Linked DNA regions of Homo sapiens. The protein of the gene in region 2 purifies or fractionates together with the protein of the main gene of each other region. This does not show direct contact. Each region holds a gene or a part of one and is shown on either strand. Other genes may lie near its edges. The genes, in order: IFT46, DGKE, PDHA1 and PAICS.

Evidence for each region.
Region 1: the proteins of DGKE (region 2) and IFT46 purify together in Homo sapiens (affinity purification with mass spectrometry; one large-scale study listed by BioGRID and IntAct). This does not show direct contact.
Region 3: the proteins of DGKE (region 2) and PDHA1 purify together in Homo sapiens (affinity purification with mass spectrometry; one large-scale study listed by BioGRID and IntAct). This does not show direct contact.
Region 4: the proteins of DGKE (region 2) and PAICS purify together in Homo sapiens (affinity purification with mass spectrometry; one large-scale study listed by BioGRID and IntAct). This does not show direct contact.

What each region holds. Positions count from the first base shown.
Region 1 is NC_000011.10:118,557,659-118,562,931, reverse strand, and holds part of IFT46 (intraflagellar transport protein 46 homolog), read left to right. Parts: intron 1-1,293; exon of another isoform or gene 1,294-2,315; intron 2,316-3,067; 5' UTR 3,068-3,102; coding exon 3,103-3,147; intron 3,148-5,041; coding exon of another isoform or gene 5,042-5,194; intron 5,195-5,273. UniProt on the Homo sapiens protein: Forms part of a complex involved in intraflagellar transport (IFT), the bi-directional movement of particles required for the assembly, maintenance and functioning of primary cilia. May play a role in chondrocyte maturation and skeletogenesis.
Region 2 is NC_000017.11:56,862,318-56,869,608, forward strand, and holds the end of DGKE (diacylglycerol kinase epsilon), read left to right. Parts: intron 1-29; coding exon of another isoform or gene 30-83; exon of another isoform or gene 84-178; intron 179-294; coding exon 295-474; 3' UTR 475-7,250; downstream 7,251-7,291. UniProt on the Homo sapiens protein: Membrane-bound diacylglycerol kinase that converts diacylglycerol/DAG into phosphatidic acid/phosphatidate/PA and regulates the respective levels of these two bioactive lipids.
Region 3 is NC_000023.11:19,346,850-19,350,967, forward strand, and holds part of PDHA1 (pyruvate dehydrogenase E1 component subunit alpha, somatic form, mitochondrial isoform 1 precursor), read left to right. Parts: intron 1-2,462; coding exon 2,463-2,522; intron 2,523-3,087; coding exon 3,088-3,261; intron 3,262-4,118. UniProt on the Homo sapiens protein: The pyruvate dehydrogenase complex catalyzes the overall conversion of pyruvate to acetyl-CoA and CO(2), and thereby links the glycolytic pathway to the tricarboxylic cycle.
Region 4 is NC_000004.12:56,447,513-56,455,845, forward strand, and holds part of PAICS (bifunctional phosphoribosylaminoimidazole carboxylase/phosphoribosylaminoimidazole succinocarboxamide synthetase), read left to right. Parts: intron 1-905; coding exon 906-1,085; intron 1,086-1,197; coding exon 1,198-1,311; intron 1,312-3,106; coding exon 3,107-3,190; intron 3,191-4,359; coding exon 4,360-4,540; intron 4,541-6,090; coding exon 6,091-6,249; intron 6,250-8,333. UniProt on the Homo sapiens protein: Bifunctional phosphoribosylaminoimidazole carboxylase and phosphoribosylaminoimidazole succinocarboxamide synthetase catalyzing two reactions of the de novo purine biosynthetic pathway.

The DNA.
Region 1 (5,273 bases), on a different chromosome or scaffold from region 2:
CACCACACCCAGCTAATTTTTTGTATTCTTAGTAGAGACGGGGTTTCACCATGTTGGCCCGGATGGCCTCGATCTCCTGACCTTGTGATCCACCCACCTCGGCCTCCCAAAGTGTTGGGATTACAGGCGTGAGCCACCGCACCAAGCCTATGCCACGTTTTTTAATTCATTCATTTGTTAATGGACACTCGGGTTGTTTTCATATTTTGGCTATTGTGAATAACACTGCTATGAACAGAGGTGTACAAGTGTCCATTTGAGTCCCTGTTTTCAATTCTTTGGGACCTAGCCACCTAGGTTTTTGACTTGAGCGTGTTTATGCTCTTGACAGCTGTGGATATTATAATTTGTTTTTAATTTGGGCTAATTTAGTAAATAAAAAAAGGGTTTAATTTGCATTTATTTGATATAGAAATCATTTATCATGTTTTCATTCCAGTTAATGCCTTACATCTAATTATACTTTTATTTTAATTTAATTTTTTATTTATAGAGACAGAGTTTTGCTCTGTCACCCAGGCTGGAGTGCGGTAGCATGATCACGGTTCACTGCAGCCTCGACCTCCTGGGCTCATGCAGTCCTCCTGCTTCAGAACCCCCGGTAGCTGGGACTACCAGCCCATGCCCCCATGTCCAGCTAATTTTTTTTTTTTTTGAGATGGAGTCTTGCTCTGTCGCCCAGGCTGGAGTGCAATGGCGTGATCTCGGCCCACTGCAACCTCAACCTCCCAGGTTCAAGCGATTCTCCTGCCTCAGCCTCCTGAGTAGCTGGGATTATAGGAGTGTGCCACCACACCTGGCTAATTTTTTTGTATTTTTAGTAGAGACGGGGTTTCACCATGTTGGCCAGGCTGGTCTCGAACTCCTGACCTCAGGTGATCCACCCGCCTCAGCCTCCCAAAGTGCTGGGATTACAGGCAGGAGCCACTGTGCCCGGCCTAATTTTTGTATTTTTTGTAGAGACAGGGTTTCACCGTGTTGCCCAGGCTGGTCTTGAACTCCTAGGCTCAAGCAATCTGCCTGCCTCCGCCTCTTAGAGTGCTGGGATTACAGGTGTGAGCCACTGCGCCTGTCATTAATTATCCTTTTAATTGTTCAGAATATTTAAAAATTGCTCTTATCTTTGCATACTGATTCGGATTCAAACTTGTGACTATTATTTGCCAGGCCCTGGGTCAGTTCCTTGCACATAAATTTTTTCACTTGATCCTTATAAGAGGCCTGGGTTAGAAATATTAGTGACCCCATTTAGAGGTGGGAATACTGAGACTCAAAGAGGTTAAATCTTTTTTTTTTCTGTCCATATGTTTATCGTCTTTATCTGAAAAATCTTTATAGAAAATTGTTTGGTTTAGCTCTCAGCAGCCTGCTCCTGAGCTCTGAGGGAGCTTGCCTTCTTTTAAGCTACCTGATGTTTCTTCTGAGCAAGGGACATTTTGGGACAGTTCCACCTATTCTTTTTAACTTCTTTCTTGGGCCTCTTTTCATAGACTGGATTCTCTCATATAGCAGCATGAGCTTTCTTATACATCTCTTCCATCATGTCTGGAGTTACGCTCTTCTTTATGCATTGAGAGAACTGGTTCTTGTAAGCATCTTCATCTTCTTCTGTTAAGTAGTGCATGTAATCTGCAACATTCTGGCCCATGATGTGCTTCTGGTGTACTTCTGCATTAAATTCCTTGCTTTCAGAATCATAACTAGGGAATCGTTTGGTACTGTGAGGGACAGACAAGCCTCCATCCACAGCTCCCTTCAGGGTGCCAAAAACTTTATTGCCAGTGGTAGTTCTGGCAAGACCTGTATCCAAATAGCAGGTAAAGGCACCTGGCTGACCATCAATGCTTTCCACATTGTATTCATTGCCAGTCTCCTCCACTTGGCCTTCATAGATCTTGTCCATGCCAAACCTATTGGGAAGCCTGCGGGCCAGCAGCAGGCCAGTACAATAAGTTGCAGCATAATTTGTCAGGCCAACCTTCACACCACATTTTGGCAGTTTGTGTGCATATGCTGCGCAGACTATATCCCCCTCTATACGGGCATAAGCAGTCTGACAAATGATATCTCTGTTTGTTACACGAACTATCATCTTATATTTGGGTGTGTTGTATTTATTTTTATCCTGTATCACCAAGCATTTCTGAGGATAGTAACCAGTTTTACCCTCTCGTCGTCTTCTAAATTTCACTTGGTATCTCTTAAAGTAGGCTTTATTCTTAACAACTTTAATAAACCCCATTCTGCGGAACAGAGACCCGCGTTTGCGGCTCGACAGAGACCTGCCGGCCCAGCAGTGCTAGGGGGTGAAAAGGCAAAATCATTTTAAGTAATTTTTCTTCAAACCCACTCTTAGTATGAATTCAGCACTCTGTACTTTACTAGTTATTAACCTAATTTGACTAATGTGTAAACTAAGGGCAGAGTGTATATTTTTCTCTTTCTTTTCTTTTCCCCCTCCCCTCCCCTCCCCTCCCCTCCCCTCCCTTCCCCTCCCATTCCGTTTCTGACAGGCTCTCACTCTGTTGCCCGGGCTGGAGTGCAGCAGCATGAACACTGGACACTGCTCACTGCAGCCTCGAACTCCTGGGTTTAAGCAGACCTCCTGCGTCAGCCTCCCGAGTAGCTGGGACCACAGGCGCATGGCATCACACCCAGCTAATTTTTTTTCTTTTTTTTTTTTTGTAGATGGGATCTTGCCATATTGTCCAGTCTAGGCTCAAACTCCTGGGCTCAAGTGATCCTCCTGCCTCCCCTTCCCAAAGTGTTGGGATTATAGGCATGAGCCACTGCCCCTGGCCAGAGTTTATATTATTTATGTAATGGCAGATAATTTGAATAGTATAATGTCTAACCCAATGCCTTAAGCACAGTAATGTTTAGTAAATATATCTTGAATTGAACTGGCAGAGCCATGACTAGAATTCAGTCTCCTGTCTCTTTAGCCAGATGTTCCAATAAACCTTGTTTTATAAAATGGTTAGAGCATAAAATATTAAAAACTAAAAAATACTTGTTTTTAAAAATCATTTTAACAATAATCTAAAGGAAAAACTTTTTTTCTAAGGACTTCCTCGTTCTGCCCATCTTCCTAACAAGGCTATGGCTGATAACAGCAGTGATGAGTGTGAAGAGGAAAATAACAAGGTACAGTAAAACTCACAGCTTCTTGTAGAATTTCTGCTTTGGGTTTTTAGTAGTTAGAGATGACACCAGTTCAACGGTAAACATTTCTTGAACACTCACCTCCAGGGGTTAGGGACCTTTGAGCTCATGGAGGAAAATCAGTTACAAAGAGCCTTGAGATTTTGACCCTTCTTCAGGAATAAAGCCTACTACTACAATTGACTTTGGTGAGGAATTTCACATAATGTAGGCCAGTGTTTCACAAACTTTCCTGATCATAATACTCAACTGAGGTACTTATTTTTAAATATACGGATTCCCAGTCCCAGCCCAGAATCTCAAAAGTAAAAGCCTGGGAATTTATATTTTTTAGGAAGCAGTCCAGGTAATTTTATGCTAAAGCGAGTTTGAAATTATCAGTCTAGGCATTTTTTCATTGTCAATACTTGTGATACTGCCAGTATTTTGTGAAGGAGATTTTAATTTTGAGGTCTTAAGACCCAGATGTTGGCTGCTGTTATTCTGTGTACCTAGAGAATCACCCTGCTTCTGAAAGAAACATGGCAAGAGGCCCACCTCTCTAGAAACATATAGGACCTTAGAGTTGCACATATGATTTCTTAAAAACCGTTTATGTTGGCCGGGTGTGGTGGCGCACTCCTGTAATCCCAGCACTTTGGGAGGCCGAGGCGGGCGGATCACCTGAGGTCAGGAGTTTGAGACCAGACTGTCCAACATGGCGAAACCCCATCTCTAATAAAAATACAAAAAATTAGCTGGGCGTGGTGGCGGGTGCCTGTAATCCCAGCTACTTGGGAGGCCTCCCAAGGTGCTGGGATTACAGGCACAAGCCACTGTGCCCAGCCTGTTTTTTTTGTTTGTTTTTTTTTTTTGAGACAGAGTCTTGCTCTTTCACCCAGGCTGGAGTGCAGTGATCTTGACTCACTGCAACCTCTGCCTCTTGGGTTCAAGCAATTCTCATGCCTCAGCCTCCCGAGTAGCTGGGGGATCACAGGCCTGCACCAACTCGCCTGGCTAATTTTTGTATTTTTAGTAGAGATGGGGTTTTGCCATGTTGGCCACACTGGTCTTGAACTCCTGACCTCAGGTGATCCTCCTGCCTTGGCCTTCCAAAGTGCTGGGATTACAGGTGTGAGCCACTGTACCCAGCCTGATGGCTGCATTTTAATGGTTTTTGTTTTTGTTTTGAGACAGAGTCATCTCGCTCTGTTGCCTAAGCTGGAGTGTAGTGGCATGACCTCAGCTCGCTGCAACCTCCGCCTCCAGGGTTCAAGCAATTCTCCTGCCTCAGCCTCCTGAGTAGCTGGGATTACAGGCGTGCGCCACCACGCCTGGCTAATTTTTGTATTTTTGGTAGAGATGGGGTTTCACCATGTTGGTCAGGCTGGTCTCGAACTCCTGACCACATGATCCGCCTGCTTCGGTCTCCCAAAGTGCTGGGATTACAGGCATGAGCCACCACCCCGGGCTGACAATATTCTTAAAAGTTCCCTCTGCCAAAACTGCTTCCTATGTGACTAAGGATAATTTTGGCAAATCTTGAATTGAGAAAGAATGCTCTAGAAAGTTCTTATCAGTCATATACTAATAAGGCATAGTCACTGAATAAATTCTGCAACTGTGTTTCATTATCTGCCATGCATATTACAGCTTAGTTAGAATATACTTTATGTATAATAAATTTGTTATTCTTAGAGCAAAATGTGACTAAAAGCAGTTTTTGGTGTCCTGTAACGTGTCACAATTTTGTGTGCCAATAGCTGCTTTACCATAAAAACAAATTAATTTTAAACAACTGGAATCAAACGTGTTAACCTCAGTATAAGCCATACGGTATATAGAAACCAAGTTTTGAAAACCTACTTTTAAAGGGGGCCAATTGGTCATCCTTCAGGTCCTAAGGGAGGGCATGCCACAGGCTCCAGGCCACAGAGGCAAAGACATGGACCCTGTTCCACCTGCCCCTGCAAGTCTCAAGTGCCACCAGACCCCTTCTCATGTACTTGAGAGGGTGGGATGGTACAGAGAGAGCCAGAAGCACAGAAAGGTAGGTTATAATGTCAAGAACAAAAGAGCTGTTTATCTTGAGAGAGAATGTGTAGTCATTTTATGTAATTTATGGGGTA
Region 2 (7,291 bases):
ATATACATGCTATACTTTTCTTTAAACAGTGGTTTATGGCTCATGCAGCTGGTCACTGTACACTAGCGGCTAGAGTGGGATGAGGAAGAAACAGAAACATGGCTCAAGATCCATGAGATAAAACGTTCACTTGAAAAAAGAATTCCTTAATCAATGAATAAAAACATATTCAGATTAATATTTTCTAAAAATGAAATGCATAAGGGTTAAGGGATTGTGGATGGTATTATTAAGGAAGACCTTTCTAAATTTGGGGGGACTGACTTTTAAACATTATTTGTTCCCTAATATCAGCTGATTTTGAAGTGCTCCATGATGCCAATGCAGGTGGATGGGGAGCCTTGGGCCCAAGGGCCCTGCACTGTCACCATAACTCACAAGACACATGCAATGATGTTATATTTCTCTGGAGAACAAACAGATGATGACATCTCTAGTACTTCGGATCAAGAAGATATAAAGGCGACTGAATAGATGGATGAGGGAGTGAAAACTTTGCATAGAATCCTCACGCAAGTAGATACATGTTCATCCAAAAGTATTAATAGAAATTCTCTATCAGCTATTCAGTCTTAATTTCACTAGTAGTATAATGGGTATACATTTTTGTAAATAGCATCCCCAAACCAGCCAGCCTTCAGTTATTTACAAATGTTTGTTCTTTTTTCAGCAAAATACTTCAAATGAATAGTATTAACTTACAAAAAGTCACAAAAACTTACATGAGAGTGAAAATTTGTTATGACTGTTTTGAGAGTGGGACTCACTCTGAAGTATGTGCTGTCTCATGTCTTATTTTTGAACCATGCATATGATGGACACACAATGGATGGACACATTATATCTCCAACAAGGTGTGGGTGGAAAGATCAAATTAACCTGCTTTTTTGAAAGGAAATGATTACTGTCAAACCAGCATGGTTAATTGTGAGCATCCTCCTGCAGCATGCCCCTTAAGATTTTCTACAACCCAAACCAAGTGTATGTATTGATTTCTAGGAACCCCCAAAAGGAGAATAGTAAAAAAAGATCATACTTAAAATTTGTATTACAATTTTTATTTTAGGAACTTATTCAGACACGTAAATGTTGTTTAATTCTGTAGGTAACCATTTGAGCTGCAATTCAGGATCTTTTTTATAACACCAGTGTAGCCAAAAGAGAAACAGATAAGTGAATTGGTAAGAAATAAGATTCAGAGCACTTGGGATTGTAAGTTATAGGTTCTGAGCTGAACTGTTTATCAGCCGCTCTTTTTATTAAAAGACAGTGTCAACACTTCAAAAAACGTGCTTAAAGGAGACAACGGTGAGATTAATTGCTTAGAAAAAGCTCAAGGCTGACTGATAAGTTTTAAAAATTTGGTGGTCTTGTAGTATTTTGAAATACAGTAGTCTTTTAACAGAATTTCCCCTTAGGGAGGTAAGTGGACAGAAATCTTTGCTAAAATGTTTATATCATATTTATTTTAAAATGAGAGAGATATATTTTTAAATTATTTATTATTTACCTTGTGGTATGGTACCTGTGTTTAGTGTTTACGTTCTGTAGCTTTATTTAATAAGTTAAATTGATCACATAAATTCTGCTAGTCACAATCAGATAGAAATTTAGTCTATTAATTAAAATTCTAATTTAATTCTCCTGACAGAAATCTAGATATTCTTATTCTTCACAAATATTCCTCATTGTATTGAAAAATGAAGGAGGGCATGAAAAGCACTAGGGAACTACTTTTGGATAACTGAAAGCTTTGTTTCATTGTTTTATTTGCCCCTCAATTGCCACAAACTTACTGAAGGGCTAGTTTCATGGTTCCCATTAGAGGGTGCTTGTTCGCTGCTGTTGACCAGCCCAAGGGTCGTGACCCACAGGTCGGCTGACCCAGAGGGCATCCAGCCTGGTGTTTTTCTGACACATGGCCCAGGCTTTGTGGTCTTTCATGACATTAATCTCTGAAAGATCAGAATGTATCCCCCAAAATACCATTAGCTATCTTTGAGGGTCTATTATGAATCTGTCATCCATGAATTGCCATAAACCTAAGTTTGCCTCACCTCAGGCCCAGACCATGTTTTCAAAGAGCAACTTAGTAATGTATACAGTAGTCAGTACATTTTATGAAATACTCTATTTTGCTAAATTAACCTCTTGCAGATCTCCTCAGGTGATCTTAAATTCTAGTCTTGAGAAACTTTGTGAGCAGATCTGTTTTCAGCTTCTTTATATACCTTTCATGGTAAGTAACCATGGCAGTGAGGATGGCAGAGTTTTGTTTTTTTTTTTTTTAATGGGCCAATCATGTTCTGAGTATTATGAAGTTTATCCTTTCATTCATGATCAAAATTGTTAAAGACATCACATTTTATAAATACACTGTTAAATCCACTTTGCTGTAGGTTATAGTTTACCTGTTATATAATTCGTAGTGCTAATTGTAGTAGAAGCAAATCAATTTAGGATGTTGGAACGAAAATAATCACAATAACTAATACAGCTTTTTAATTGTGAAAACTACAATTAAAAATTATAATTTTAATACCAACCATAATATTACACTGTATTTAGAACAGGCTTATGTAAAATGCCCTCATTTATCTAAATAAGTTGATTTTTTGGTTATTGTAATCTAGTAAGGTTTTTGCATCACTACTGGTCTGTCATGAAGTTTTTCTGCTGGCTTATTCACTTATTTAGACTTCATTTAGGGAAGCTATTTCAGAATACCATCTCATAAAATGTATCATTATCTTGTTTTTGCAAAATTCACTTACTTTTTGGGCACATTTACCCAGCATTTCAAATAAGTGTATAGGCATGTGCCTTGTTTAAGTACAATTTATAAGACTTCATGTTTGCAAGTTACATATTAGGGTAGTGATTGTTTATATTACCAGGGATTCTACACTTTACCAAAAAAAATTGCCATAAGATTTTCCTGTTCCATTTTAAATTGTCTTGATATTTAAAAAAATAACTTCTACATTCTCAGGAAGAAATACATGAAGTAAATCATATCTCCATGTCTGTTTCCAGATTTCTCTAATCTTTTTACTATCCCAATACATTCCTAATTCCTATAAACGTAGTGGCTTAAATACTGAATACCTGGCAGCTCTTAAAGATCCCTTAGGCAGATGATGATAATTTTCAGTGTTTCGTCATGTTTAATAGAAATCAAACTGACTTGTGTTTTAAAATACAAGTTGTCTGCTAGTAAAGTTACATGATTTAGGTGTGTTTTAGGTTTTCTGCAACAATTAGCTGTGAACCCCTAATGTAGCTAAGTTTATACAAATTTTATAATCAAAATTATTTATTTTTATTTTTTTAGAGTATGTCAAAAACATATAGTGTTTGCTTTGTGAAATACATTTGCTTAGAGTTATAAAATATACTGTGACTCAGAAATTGTAAAGTCAGTTTGCGTTGTAAAAATGAATACTACCAGCATGTCAAAAGAAAAATAATTTACATTTGTAATATAAAGTAAAATTGTATTTAATATATTTATTGAATTTTAAATTTGCACTAACTTGAAAACTTTAAAGGTTATACTAATTTAATGATTAATGTGGACCCAAATACATAATTTGGCCAAAAAAGTCATTAGAATGGGTAATGGTTTTGTGTGGTTTTCCTTCAAAATGATAATATTGAAGCAAGAACCAGCATTTTATATTGATAATTTTTTTAATATTTCTACCCAGTTGAGGACAGTGGAATATAAGTAGATATATTTAAAATATCTAGATATTTAAAAAGAAAGAAAAGGTTGTTTATCCCAATCTGAATTCATTCTCAGCAACAAGACAGAAAAGGTGGTTTGGGTTTTGCTTTTAAACAGTGTCCCCCTGTCTTTTTCAATTTTTCCCTTGAAGCCTTTCTCTTGTTCTTCAGAGTACGCGCTGCAGGCTATCTGCAGCATCAGAATGCCTGGGCAGGCTGTTGAAAGTATGGATTCCTGAGCCCAACCCTTAACTTAATGATTCCCTGTCTCTGGAGATGCAACATAGAAATCTCTGTTTTTATTAACAAGCGCCTCAGGCGATTCTTAAGCATACTGAAATTTGAAAGCTTCTGGTCTGAACCTCATGTATTCACCTAGGGCTTTTGCTAGGTGGGATACCATGCCGAAAAATTGAATTAATTGTATGTTCTTAAAATTGTTTTTCTTCTACTCCGCTGTCCTCTTCCCTCAAAATCACTTTTCTAAAAGAACTCTATGAAAAACTTATTTGTATCATACCCAAATTGATATATTTGTCTGAACTCTGTTACATAAAAATTGGTATGATTCATATGTGGAATCAGTTTTTGGACTGTGACCCATGCAGTGTTGGGGGACAAGGAGTTGCTTCAGGAGTTAGTGCAGTGCGCCTCCAAGGGGCAGTGAGCCATGGAGGCGCCTGCCTTCTCACTGCAGTCAATGCAGCCACACTTGTGTATACTGAGTGCTGCTTCAGATCTCAGTAGATAAAATAATTCCACATTTAAAATGATTCTGCTATTTTTTATAAAGGGTTTGAAAGCCACTACTATAATGACTTTGTCACCTAATTGATTTTCTACTAATTTTTACATATTCAGAAACTTCGTGTTTTTTTGGTGGACAGAATATTTTGGAGGTCTCCGTCGCTGTTTAGAATGTGGCCACTTGGCTGTTTCACAGTTTTTAAAGCTATTTTATTGAATAGTAAAGCAGTGAACTTAGCCTTTGTTCTTTGTGTTTCTAATTTAAGCATATAGTCTATTTAATTTTTGATATGTAAATACACATCAATACATATATATTTACCCATGTGGCCCTGTGTAGTCAGTGCATGAGGCTTGCATAGCCCAGAAAGGTACATTCCAGGGTTCTGGGGAAAGAATTTTAAAATGCCATCCTCTAATACAGACGTTTATAAAACTTAAATGAAATGATTGGGCTTAACCATATGCAAGAAAGTCTGCAGAAAATAAATCACCTAGAAACTATAAATAGAAATGTGCTGCTGAGGCTGGGCACGGTGGCTCACACCTGTAATCCCAGCACTTGGGGGGCTAAGGGAGGCGTATCACCTGAGGTCAGGAGTTTGAGACAAGCCTGGTCAACATGGTGAAACGCCGTCTCTACTAAAAATACAAAAAAAATTAGCCAGGTACATTGGCACATGCCTTTAATCCCAGCTAATCAGGAGGCTGAGGCACGAGAATTGCTCGAACCCAGGCGGCAGAGCTTGCAGTGAGCGGAGATCACATGACTGCACTCCAGCCTGGGCAACAGAGCAAGACTCCATCTCAAAAAAAAAAAGGCCGGGCGTGGTGGCTCACGCCTGTAATCCCAGCACTTTGGGAGGCTGAGGCAGGTGGATCACGAGGTCAGGAGATCGAGACTATCCTGGCTAACACGGTGACACCCCGCCTCTACTAAAAATCCAAAAATTTAGCCGGGCATGGTGGCGGGCACCTGTAGTCCCAGCTACTCGGGAGGCTGAGGCAGGAGAATGGCGTGAACCCGGGAGGCAGAGCTTGCAGGGAGGCGGAGCTTGCAGCGAGCCGAGATAGTGCCACTGCAGTGGGGCCTGGGCCAAAGAGTGAGACTCCATCTCAAAAAAAAAAAAAAAGAAAGAAATGTGTTGCTGGTATCAGATATCAGACCAAGAACACTTCAGTCTCTCTAAGGATGCCCTGAGCTACCTCACTGTTAAAGGACGACATCAACACAGAATGCACTAAACAGGAAATAAGCTGTAATCTAGAGAATTTCCATTATGTGTTACTTTTTGGTGACTAACATGGAATGTTGAAAAGGAAGAGCTGGAAAGCTCAGTTGTTTTCCTTGTTCCTCTGACATTGTCCAGGCAAGAGGGCATCCTGATCAGATGAGTAGATTTGGCTGAGAAAAACCCTAGAGTAAGGCAGGCACTTTGTGGAGGTGGATGATGATGGCTCATAAAAACGTTTGTTCTCAGTCCAGTTCAGGGCTCTGCCAGCAGTCTTTCAGATCTGAACTGCTTAAACAAACCCTACAGATAAATTGGCACTCTGATTTGTAATTCTGTTTGTACAAGTTTAGAGCAGCCTAGCTCGAGTCCTCAACCCCAGTCCTCTTAGAAGTGAACTGATTGCACTGGATCCCTAAACCCACAATGTTGAGGACACATGTGATGACTCCACTTGCTCAGCCAGCTGGCCTCTTGCACTTTCCCCTGCCCACCACTTGTAACTACCACTTAATTATCTTGTGTTAATTGCTTTTGTTGTGTTGGGTCTGTATTTTTGTGGTCAGTGCCTGCAGGCAGAAATGTGAAAGCATTTGGTATGTTGAAGATACTTGCTTCTTTTTTAATAAAATTAAAAGTGCAGCACGTAAGTATGATACTGTGTAGTTTTTTGACACAACCATGAGATACAATAAGCAGCTTTGACTTAGTGTCCCAAAAAGTGGTTCTTGGTCTACAGCAGGGCAAACATATATGTGGCAAGTTCTGATCACATACTTTTAGACAGAAAGAATAAAAAATTCATATTGCATGGCTTTTGTAGCCTAAGAGCACAGAATCATACACGTGTGTTAGGAGAAACATTCATTCTCACGCATATAAACTGGCTCCTGGCAGAGTAGAGCAGTAAGTGGGATCAAAGGTGAATTCACCTTATTTTCAGTTGGTAGAGTATGGAAAAATGTATCACTTATTTGAAATACCTGAATGGAAACCCAGCCTCTACTACTGTAACTTAACACTTGTTCTTCCTGAGCCTCAAATTTTCTTTCTCTGTAAGAATGGGAATTAATGCCCACCTACGGGTTGCAAGTGCTTACAGGAGCTGGGCAAGCAACGAAGGTAAGAGTTGTAGAGACTTCGGTAAACTGGAGCACATGATTCCTGGGAAGCAGGCCTAGTGTAAACAATTTATTTTTCTAGAAAAGACAGAAGTTTAGAGTATATGAAATCTAATTTTTAAGTATTGGTTGGCAACTAATTGACTATCGTCTACCATAAGGTTATATGATAATTATTAGGGCAGGAGAGTGAATGCATCTTAATATGCATGGCAGAACTGTGTGTTTCCTTCCATCTGGATTTTCATAAAGCTTTCTGATTTATCAGTAACGATCTGAAAAATGTACTGTGGCATGTAACATCTTTTATTCATTTTATTAGGCATTAGAGGAAGAATATTCTGTAGTCCTGCTTTATTCTGCCATCTTTACCTGGAAATCCATTTTTATAAAATTTTTGTAATAAAAATTCACTTGATCACTTGCCTGCTTTCTTTTAAACAGTGCCAAGCGTAATGCCCC
Region 3 (4,118 bases), on a different chromosome or scaffold from region 2:
CTTTATAAGTGGTAGGTAAGAGTTTTAATTTACACTGTTAGAATCTGGAATTTTTGAAACGTTTTTCCTCTTTCACATGAATGGTTCCTATGTATTTAGGAAGTTAAAGTTTTACTTTTTTTTAATTAATTTTTTTTTTTAGGCTGGAATGCAGTGGCACAGTCATAGCTCACTGTAGCCTCAGGTGTGTGCCACCATACCTGACTAATTTTTTAATATTTATTTTTGTAGAGATGAGAGTCTCATGTTGCCCAGGCTGGCTTTGAACTCCTGGCTTCAAGTGGTCCTCCCACCCTGGCCTCCCAAAGTGCTGGGGATTATAGGTGTGAGCCATCATGCCCGGCCTAGTTTTTATTTTTTAAAATTTGAGTGGGTTGTTCGTGGTCTCTGTCAGAGAGGAATCCCATTTAACAGAGAATCTTTTTATGGCTCTCCAGAGAAAATGAATGGTAAACTTATCTTTTCAACAAGCTCTCACTCAGAAATGATACACACACACTTCTGATAGGACTTTTAGCTTCTTTAACTTTGTTCCTTTCACTCATATCAGTGGTTCTTATTTTTGAGATACACAGTAATGAAGCCATGGGAGAAAGTATCTAAGTAGCTTTCTGGCAGTCCTAATCTTTGCAGGCGCAAGATTACAGGCGCATGCCACAGCACTGGGCCCCTTCTTGCTCTTTATTGTATAGCATTATCCTGCCTCATTGTTTCAACTCTAGGATTGAGAAAGAAGTTACCTTTTCTCTGTTACTGTCGCCTGGCTGGTTTGGACTCCTGCCTTCCAAAAACTGCAGTTTCTGTAGTTGTATTTGGAAATTTATTTCACAATACAATAAATTTCTGGCCCCACAAAATATTTATTAACTGCCAAGAATAACACATCTGTTTGATTGCTAAATATAACCATTGATTTGCTGTTTCACCTTCTCTCAGCTTTACTTCTTCCCAAATTCCTAAATTTCCTTCACTTTTTCTGAGATACATTAGTGGACTGTCTCTGCCTGTAAGTTAACTGAAACACTGATTCCTAGTATTTCAGTTGTTTTCCTCCAGCACTGTCATTGTCTGTGTTTGTTGGCTTTGTCCAATAATGGTCTATTGAGGGGTGAAGATATACGTAATTAGCTTTCTGCCTATTGGCTTGTACACTCCAGGGTATACTTGGCAGATCAGTCTTAACTCTTCTCACCAAGATCAGTCCAGTGCTGGATTAGGTAAGGTATGAACACATCAGATGTGCTTTTTATGGAGAAATCATGTTGGTTTACACGTCAGTGTGTGAGAATGTGGCAGAAGGGAGCTAAAATAGTATGATAATACTACTGGATAAATTTTGTGGTCTAACCTAAACCTTAGCCATTACATAGAATACTTTTGCTGTGAGCAGGTTTGCTCAGTTGTAAAACTGGAAAGGAATCATTTCTCACCCCCCGCCTCCAAGCTTTTTACCTCCAAACAGTGACAGCCACCCAAACATCAAGAGAACAGTGTTTCAGAGAACATTTCTACTGGGGCTTCAGGAGGAGCCTGTCCAAGATTTAGGCTGTTCAAATTATAAATTATAAAACAGCTGGCTCAAGCCCATTGTGTTTAAGTCAGAGAGTGCTAAGTATCTTTTCTTTTGTCTTGTCTCCCTAAAGTATTTATCTCATACTTCAATCAATTTAAAATATTTTTTCTTACAGATCCAATTTGATAGAAGAGTCAAGTTTGCCTAGAGTGGAGATTAAATCATAGTTTTATTTGAAGTATAATTTTGGCTTGCTCAAAATGAACAGTATCTGGTTATGACTAAGAATGGCATGAAAAGGCCAGACGCAGTGGCTCATGCCTGCAATCCCAGTACTTTGGGAGGCCAAGGCAGGTGGATCACCTGAGGTCAGGAGTTGGAGACCAGCCTGGCCAACATGGTGAAACCCCATCTCTACTAAAAATATAAAAATTAGCCGGGCGTGGTGGTGGGCACCTGTAATCCCAGCTACTCGGGAGACTGAGACAGGAGAAATCACTTGAACCCGGGAAGCGGAGGTTGCAGTGAGCCGAGATCGCACCACTGCACTCCAGCCTGGGTGATAAAAGCAAAACTCCGTCTCAAAACAAACAAACAAAAGAATGGCATAAACAGACACAGCTCACAGATGATCTAGTCTCTTTAGCCACTAATTTCATTATATTCTCACTATAATTTCTTTGAAAACAAAGGATGGGTTTGTTTTTTGCCCCTCTTTGCGCTGCTTGCCTTCAGATGCGGGATAATCCTGTTTCATTGGCCAAAGCATGGATTCATTTTGGAGGCCAAGGAAGATGCAAACACAGTGCACAGGGTGGAAGAGAAGCCTATGAATATGTTGGGGCTTATTAAATTTCCATAACTTCATTCTGATAACTGATTATTATACTTTCCAAAATAGCTGACAATTAAAAAGTACTGATTTGTTTGTATATTTTTGTCTTTTAAGGCAAGCAGAGTGCTGGTAGCATCCCGTAATTTTGCAAATGATGCTACATTTGAAATTAAGGTAAGAGGTGTTTTACTTTGTTAATAATTTTTTCACAGGTACACTCTGATATACAGTTTTACCTTTAGAATAGAACATTTTGATGTTCATGCTTAGTCATCATTTTCTTCTAAATGTTCCAGGATCAGAAGTTCAGAGAAGCTTCACGAAAACTAGAATTTATTATTAGCAGCTTGCTGTTGTTCTGTGGGGGGAAGGGGGAGGAGCTAGAAAATGAAAATAAAAATAAAAGCTTATTCAAAAGTTTGGAATGTAATTCAGTGAAATATTTGAATAAGAAGAGTCTTAGTTGTTTCTTTGAAGGTTCTTTCAACCTATAACTCAGTTGGCTTCTAGGGGCTTTCAGTGAAAATCATCTTAGAAAGATTTCCTTCCCCCAAGCCCCATCTCATTGCACAGTGAGGTTTATGGATTTAAGGAACAGAGGCGATATGAAGCATTACTGATGTGCTCCTTTGCAGTTTTTCAAGTTCAATATTATTTGCAATGGAGTTAGATCTTAGAGTGGTCAACAGTGTTTGCAATGTAGTATGTGGAGGATAATAACTACCTTATTCCATTTCAGAAATGTGACCTTCACCGGCTGGAAGAAGGCCCTCCTGTCACAACAGTGCTCACCAGGGAGGATGGGCTCAAATACTACAGGATGATGCAGACTGTACGCCGAATGGAGTTGAAAGCAGATCAGCTGTATAAACAGAAAATTATTCGTGGTTTCTGTCACTTGTGTGATGGTCAGGTGAGTGGTAGGTTTGTGGTGGAACTGTGTTATTTAGGTACTGAAGTATGGCTTGTACTTATTGGGCTTTACCCTGCCATATGTATCAGAAGAGTTTGAGGCTGGTAATGTAATTTTCTTTTATTTATTTATTTTTTTGAGACAGTCTCTCTCTGTCGCCCAGGTTAGAGTACAGTGGTGATCTTGGCTCACTGCAGCCTCTGGTTAGAGTACAGTGTGATCTTGGCTCACTGCAGCCTCTGTCCACTGGGCTCAAGCAATCCTCCCACCTCAGCCTCCCGAGTATGTGGGACCACAGGTGCACACCAACACACCCAGCTAATTTTTGTATTTTTTGGAGATACGGGGTTTCACTATGTTGCCCAGGCTAGTCTCAAACTTCTGGGCTCAAGTGGTCCGCCCACCTTGGCCTCCCAAGGTGCTAGGATTACAGGCGTGAGCCACTGTGCCTGGCTGAAGCCAGTATTTTAGAATTAAAAAGTAGAATGCCAAAACCTGCTATGAAGCTTAGGCTAAAGAATTCATTCACACATAACATTGCCAGTTTTCTGTACCTGTTCTTAGAGTTTTACTATTTTAAAACTTTCTGGCACTATGATCGCCTGTACTGTATATAATTTGGAGAGAAAGGATTAGTTTGTTTTTTGTTTTGTGGGCTTAGGTCAAGGGTTAGAGTCAAATACCTACAAGGGCCAGCCAGGTAGAATAAATGAGTGAAGAAGGCTAGGTATACAAAACAGAAAATGGTGACAGGGACTCATGCTGAACTGGCACCAGCATGCCCTACCCAGAGGAATGCCATGACTTGGTTCCAGCCAGTTGGTGCCATGTGGAAATCAGGGGTAATGTTTCCTGTT
Region 4 (8,333 bases), on a different chromosome or scaffold from region 2:
AAAAAATTATAGTGCTGTATAAATTCTAATAAAAAGTGAGGTTGGGAGGTTATGAGAACGGTGGTTTTGGAAAGATTTGATTGATTAAAATGTGCTTTGGCCTTCCTGTCATGTCTGATGACTGTTATTAAGGAAAAACAAAAATCACAAACTTAAATTCTGTTTAAATTGGTTTATAGAGGTTAAATTCTTTGAAATACTTTGTGACCTAGAATAAGTTACTCACCTAAATACTTTGAATTTTAAAGTGCTATTGAGAGTAAACAAATTAAGAGTAATAGTTTTTTCTGCTTGCAGGAGCTAACTAGGAAAAAAAAGAGGAGTAATAATTGCTTTGAATTAAGGAGTATCGTAAACAAAAAATTTCTTTAGATGTCTCATTTTGTTGCCCAGGCTGCTCTTGAACTCCTAGGCTCAAGCGATCCTCCTGCTTCAGCCTCCTAAATTACTGGGACTACAGTGTGAGCCACTGCACCTGGATCAAAATTTCTTTTCTTTTTTTTTTTTTTTTTTGAGATGGAGTCTCCCTCTGTTGCTTAGGCTAGAGTGCAGTGGCGCTCTCTCAGCTCACTGCAACCTCCACCTCCCGGGTTTAAATGATTCTCCTGCCTCAGCCTCCCAAGTAGCTGGGATTACAGGTGCACACCACCACACCCAGCTAATTTTTTGTAATTTTAGTAGACAGGGTTTCACTGTGTTGGCCAGGCTGGTCTCGAACTCCTGATCTTGTGATCCGCCCACCTCAGCCCCCTAAAGTGCTGGGATTACAGGCATGAGCCACCATGCCCGGCTGTGGCTAAAAATTTCTAAGGAGTTCATGCTCAAGGTGAAAAGGATGTTGGTTTTTCTGAAAAGTTTAAAAATTTTAGATTGAAGTTAATTGTACTACTATACTTTATTCACAGGATGATGCCAATAATGACCCACAGTGGTCTGAGGAACAGCTGATTGCTGCAAAATTTTGCTTTGCTGGACTTCTTATAGGCCAGACTGAAGTGGATATCATGAGTCATGCTACACAGGCTATATTTGAAATACTGGAGAAATCCTGGTTGCCCCAGAATTGTACACTGGTTGATATGAAGGTACAGATAAAACAAGTACAGATAAAACAACAGGATTTGAAAGTAAAGGTTATAGTTGAGAGATGCTTTCATAAAATAGTTTTTGAAAACTTTGTTGACATGCTGTTTCCAGATTGAATTTGGTGTTGATGTAACCACCAAAGAAATTGTTCTTGCTGATGTTATTGACAATGATTCCTGGAGACTCTGGCCATCAGGAGATCGAAGCCAACAGAAAGACAAACAGGTAGATAATGCTTCAGGTTTTTTTATCCTTTTTGAGATCAAGCTGAGATAGAGGAGAAAGGAGAGATGAGGGGAAAAAGCAAATTATTGTTCCTAATGATATGAACCTGTTTTGTGGATTGCTGTTTATTTTTAAAGATAAATGTCTCTGGTATCCTAATAGAAGAATAATAGGAATAATACTTTACATTTATAAAGCAAATTTCTCATCTGTTATCTTAATAACATTGTCACAACAGTAACAGCAAGTATTATCTTTGTTTGGCTAAATGAAAACTAAGGGTCTTAAGAGGATGGGTATCTTCACAATTACTAGAGTCAGGGACAGATCTGGGACTCTATTCCAAGTCTCCTGCATGTTACCAGGCCACATTTCTGCTCCTATATAAAACAACAGACACTTCTCAAAAGAAGACATTTATGCAGCCAACAAACATGAAAAAAAGCTCATCATCACTGATCATTAGAGAAATGCAAACCTAAACCACAATGAGATACCATCTCACACCAGTCAGAATGGCTGTTTTAAAAAAGTCAGGAAACAACAGATGCTGGAGAGGCTATGAAGAAATAGGAACGCTTTTACACTGTTGGTGGGAATGCAAATTAGTTCAGCCATTGTGGAAGACAGTGTGGTGATTCCTCAAGGATCTAGAACCAGAAATACCATTTGACCCAGCAATCCCATTACTGGGTATATACCCAAAGGAATATAAATCATTCTACTGTAAAGACACGTGCACAGGAGCAGCACTATTTACAATAGCAAAGACATGGAACCAACCCAAATGCCCATCAGTGTTAGACTGGATAAAGAAAATGTGATATACACACACCATGGAATACTATGCAGCCATAAAAAAGAATGAGATTGGCCAGGCGCGGTGGCTCACACCTATAATCCCAGCACTTTGGGAGGCCAAGGCAGGTGGATGACAAGGTCAGGAGTTCAAGACCAGGCCAAGATAGTGAAACCTTGTCTCAAAAAAAAAAAAAAAAAAAAATTAGCCAGGCATGGTGGTGGGCACCTGTAATCCCAGCTTCTCGGAAGGCTGAGGCAGAGAATTGTTTGAACCCGGGAGGTGGAGGTTGCAGTGAGCCGAGATTGTGCCACTGCACTCCAACCTGGTTGACAGAGCGAGACTCTGTCTCCAAAAAAAAAAAAAGAAAGAAAAAGAATGAGATCATGTCCTTTGCAGGGAAATGGATTCAGCTAGAAGCCATCATCCTCAGCAAACTAACACAGGAACGGAAAACCAAACACCACATGTTCTCACTCATAAGTGGGAGTTGAACACTGAAAACACATGGACACAGGGAGGGGAACAACACACACCGGGGCCTGTTGCAGGGTGGGGAGCAAGGGGAGGGAGAGCATTAGGAGAAATACCTAATGCATATGGGGCTTAAAACCTAGATGACAGGTTGATGGGTGCAGCAAACTACCATGGCACATGTATACCTATGTAACAAACCTGCACATTCTGCACATGTATTTAAAATAAAAAATAACAGAAAACAAAATTAGAGCAAGACCCTTTCTATACTTAATATATAAAAATTCTCAAGGCAGTTAATTGTAGTTGCTAGTACAGAAAACACTTAACCTTAAGTGAAAATAAAAGTATACTTTACTATGGAACTTTGTTAGTTTAATTCAGGAAGTGAAAAGATGCATTTTCAGAAGTATCCCTTGCTATACAAACTCTTCATAATCCCTCCCCAAAACTCAGAAACCAAATAGTTTCAGGTAGCAAGAGATACTTGTTTTCTAAACTTTCTATCTTATTTTCTAGTCTTATCGGGACCTCAAAGAAGTAACTCCTGAAGGGCTCCAAATGGTAAAGAAAAACTTTGAGTGGGTTGCAGAGAGAGTAGAGGTAAACCTTCTATAGTAAAACTGTATGTATTATGTGTTTTTCTTCTAAGAAAATCTTGTTTCAAAAGAAAAAAAAATGGGAGAGTATAGTGCTTTTCTTTTCAGTGACTTTGTTTTTTGTTGTTGTTTTTTTTGAGACGGAGTCTTGCTCTGTCGCCCAGGCTGGAGTGCAGTGGCGCCATCTCAGCTCACTGCAAGCTCCGCCTCCCGGGTTCACGCCATTCTCCTAGCTCAGCCTCCCGAGTAGCTGGGACTACAGGCGCTGGCCACCACGCCCAGCTAATTTTTTGTATTTTTAGTAGAGACGGGGTTTCACCGTGTTAGCCAGGATGGTCTTGATCTCCTGACCTCGTGATCCCCCTGCCTCGGCCTCCCAAAGTGCCGGGATTACAGGCGTGAGCCACCACGCCCAGCTCTTCAGTGACTTTGAAAGTGAGGAACACTTTTAGGAAATGTATCAGCTGGGCTATCCTTACTAGGATACTGGAACTCCGTGCTGTTAAGCTGGCCAATACATACCTCCCAGATCCTGTTGGGGAAACCTGGAATCTGTCTCCTCCCTACCCCGTAGGAGAAACCTTATATTTCCTACTCACCTGCACTGCTAGTCAGAGTTCCATTAGCATGGGATGGATGGAACTCTGTGTGACTTTAAATATTCCTTTAAGTTTTATGGTATTACTATAATTCTGGGAGTTGAATGGGGTTTGTGATTATGCAAGGGTCATAATCACATTTGAGAACATTATTCTTATAGGAATATATATTTTGAGTTACAAGCAATTAACTTACAAAGACTTAGAACATGACTTCTGATTTGGCTAATCATACCTTAAAGCTTCCATTAAACAAAGTGCACTAAAGGTCTTAGGATGAAATATTTTGTATTATAATTTCCTGAAAATTAAAAGATTTTGAGTATCTTTACTGTTTATTTTAAATAATTTGTCTGATAAAAATTGAATTCTTTAGGTCTTGATGAAGACCACTTTCCTTTATATATTGAGATTTTTAAAAATAAATCCTGTCTTTTTGTTGTTTGTCTCTGTCTTAAATTTGATCTGTTAAGAAAGAAAATATTGGGCCCAGATATAATTTTACTACAAACTCTAGCTCATTTATTCATTTTTGTTTTTATGTTCTTTTCATATCCACGTATTTTTTCTTCAGTTGCTTTTGAAATCAGAAAGTCAGTGCAGGGTTGTAGTGTTGATGGGCTCTACTTCTGATCTTGGTCACTGTGAAAAAATCAAGAAGGCCTGTGGAAATTTTGGCATTCCATGTGAACTTCGAGTAACATCTGCGCATAAAGGACCAGATGAAACTCTGAGGATTAAAGCTGAGTATGAAGGTAAACCACAAGTAATATGGACATTTCAGGTATTTCTGATTTTGCTAAAAGTAATTACACACTTTAGACTAATAATGCTGAAAAAAGAGCTTTGTCAGTTTTCTAAGGGAAAAACACATGATATACTAGGCTTTCTTTTTTTTTGAGATGGAGTCTCACTCTGTCGCCCAGGCTGGAGTACAGTGGCGCCATCTCAGCTCACTGCAAGCTCCACCTCCCGGGTTCACACCATTCTCCTGCCTCAGCCTCCCAAGTAGCTGGGACTACAGGCGCCCACCACCATGCCCGGCTAATTTTTTGTATTTTTAATAGAGACGGGGTTTCACTGTGTTAGCCAGGATGGTCTTGACCTGATCTCATGATCCGCCTGCCTTGGCCTCCCAAAGTGCTGGGATTACAGGCATGAGCCACCACGCCTGGCCGCTAGGCTTTCTTAATACTCACCTCCAAAGAGCTTAAGGTATTCTAGAAGCTTAGAAAAGAAAGGAGCAGGGAGAAATAATTAAAAATGCAAGTATGAAAAGAAAACAAAGACTAGAATGATGAGAACCTCTGGCATCCTTACCTGGTAAGAAGCCCCTGGAGCATTGCTTCTAATATACTCCAATAGAAAATAGGCCCCCACAGTTACAGGAGGCGGGAGGTTAAAATAGCCGGTTCTCCCGGGAATCTTTAGTTGCCACCCTTTCCTGGGAGGCAGTCAGATAGGAAATTAAAGAACAGTTTCAGAATATAGTACATAAAAAATAATGGTATAGCAGTGATCTAAAATAATGGAGCCCTGGGTTTACAACCAAATGTTTCTCAACTGGAAAAAAATGTTGATTATTTCGTGTACAGGTTGTTGCTATGGAAGTGTAGTTACTAATTTTGGGGGAGTGGGAGGTTGGGGGAACTCAGACTCCTTTGATAGCTAATGAATTCTAGAACTCTTTTCAGAAAATTGCAAATACATACAATTTTGGATTCTAGGTTAACAAATCTCTGCTTTAGGAAACAGGAGGATAATTTATAAATTTATCAAAGAATGAATTGCTTAAGAGATTATGTTAAAAAATGTATCAAAGGGCCTTAAAATTTGGGGGACACTATATTAATTAAACTTTCCTTCAACTCTTGTTTGAAGACGTGTCCCTAAACCCCTAGTTTATATTAACTGGTTCTCCCTGCACCAGTTGAGGGACCACCCAGTCAAGAAAGACACCTGTTCAGATGGTGTCATTCTTCACTTTGGCCAGCCTATACAGCAATAGAAGAGGCCTATGAGCTATTCCCTCACTGACACCCTGCTATCCCCTTTATAATGTAGATCTCAAAAACAACCAAACCGATTCCAGCTACTTTATTACTTGACTTATAGTAAGTGGCAGAGTAACCTTATGTTTTGAATATATGTGTAATAATAGTATCTTTTATGTTTTTTCAGAGAAGACTATTCAAGGACCTCAAGTAATTAAAACATATAGGCCTTAAACCAAAAAAAAAAAAAAACCCTGTCTTTAAATCTGTTTTGAATGTTTAGCATAATTATACTCTTGTCATTTCCCTAGGGGATGGCATTCCTACTGTATTTGTGGCAGTGGCAGGCAGAAGTAATGGTTTGGGACCAGTGATGTCTGGGAACACTGCATATCCAGTTATCAGCTGTCCTCCCCTCACACCAGACTGGGGAGTTCAGGATGTGTGGTCTTCTCTTCGACTACCCAGTGGTAAGATACATTGAATTTTTAAAAACTGTTCATTACAAGCATTTAACAGATGCACAACAGTAGACAGAATAGCATAATAAAATCTCATGTACCCATGACCTAGCTTCAGCAATTAACATCTTGTTGTGTCTACAGCCATCTCCTGCTGGATTATTTTAAAGCAGATCTTAGACGTTATAGTAATTTATACTTAAGTATATGTTTAAGTAATACAGGCTCTAGTTTTTAAATCATAATCATGATATTGTTATAGAACAAAAGGAGCCCACTATCTGATGCATTAGAAACCAGTACTATCTAAGCCACCAGGTTTTTGAGAAAGAAAGGCTTCCTCTTTCAAGTTGACCAACAAGGAGACATGAGTCCAGCTCAAATCTGTGCTGGCTTTAAGGCAGCAATTTTATTAGAAAAGGTTTAGGGGATAGATTCTGGGATTAGTAGGTGATTGGTGGAAGGAAAGGGGAGGTCTAGAAAGTCCTTGGGCATGTGCAGTTATCTCTTCATGTTATTTCATGGATCACGTGTGTAAATTTGGGGGAGTTAGAATGAATTGTGGTGGAAATTGGGCCTGTGACATCAGTAAGCTGGTTCTGTGCAGACTCTAGTTGGCCATATTGTTTAATCTACCATTCTGCAAACTCAGGAATTTCTGTTAGTTGTTGGTATCTTTTAACTCTTGGGGACACAGTTTCAATACCATATTCACACCTAAGAAAGACTAGTGGTAGTTTCTTAAGGTATAATTTTTAGTTGGGGTCCAAGTTTTCTAATTGTCTCATCTGTTTGTTCAGATCCACCACAGTCCTTATATTGCATTTAGTTGATAATCTCTTGATTTTTTAAATATATAACAATTCATCCTCCCTTTTTCCCTTTCATTTTTTCAATAGAATTTTCTATATTTTGGATTTGGCTTCTTACATTTCTAGGTGGTGGTAAACATGCTCTTCCATTCCCTATATTTTCTATAAACTGATGGTGAGATCTGTAATAAAATCAAGTTTAGATATTTTTTTCCCAAGAATTCATGGTATTGATTTTTTTTTTTAAAGTAAATGTGATCATGTTACTTCTGTAGAGAGAATACAATTTTATTCTTAAATATTGGGGATAAGGCTGGGTGCAGTGGCTCATGCCTGTCATCCCAGCACTTTGGGAGGCTGAAGTGGGCAGATCTCTGGAGGTCAGGAGTTCAAGACCTGCCTGGCCAATATGGTGAAACCCCATCTCTACTAAAAATACAAAAATTACCTAGGCATGGTGGTGAGCATCTGTAATCCCAGCTACTCAGAGGCTGAGGTAGGAGAATCGCTTGAACCTGGGAGGCAGAGGTGAGTCAAGATTGTACCAATGGATTCCAAACTGGGCAACAGAGTGAGACTCGGTCTCAAAATAAAAAATTGGGGATAAAAGATAATAACATAAGGAAGTCCCCTTTTGGCTGATGGAACTGGATCACGTAACAGTGTTGTGGTTCGTTCATCATAGTCCAAGATATGATCTGATATTCTGCAGTTTATGAGGGTCAATATTGTTTCAGTAGGAGATTTGCTTTATTACTAAAATCCCTAACTTTTCTCATATCTGTATATATCCAGTCTTGATATGTGTCAAGTATATTAAGTCTTTGAGCCCTCCAACCTGGTCCAGTGGACTGGCTTCTCTCTAGGCATCCTGTACTGCTGTTGTCTTAGGATCCCCCTTTACCATAATTTTGGAGACTCATTTTGCCTTTCTCTAGGCTTGGATCTCCCATGTTTTCCCCTTACTTGGTTTATTTTTATTTTGTTGGAGTACATTCTTGAACTTGGGGGCAAAAGAATACAAAAGGTAAATTTTGATACCTTGTGTATCTAAAATGTGTATATTGAAGCCCTATACTTGATAGTTTAGAAATAGAATCCTATGCTGAAAATCATTTTGCTTTGGAATTTTGGGAGCATTATTACTCCACTGTCTCCTAGCATCCACAGTTGAGGACTCCATTGCTTTTCCACCAGTCTGATTCTAGGTTTCTTATGAATTTTGTTTCTCTCTGGAATCTTTCAGGATCTTTTGTCTGTTTTCATTGTTCTTAAATTTTA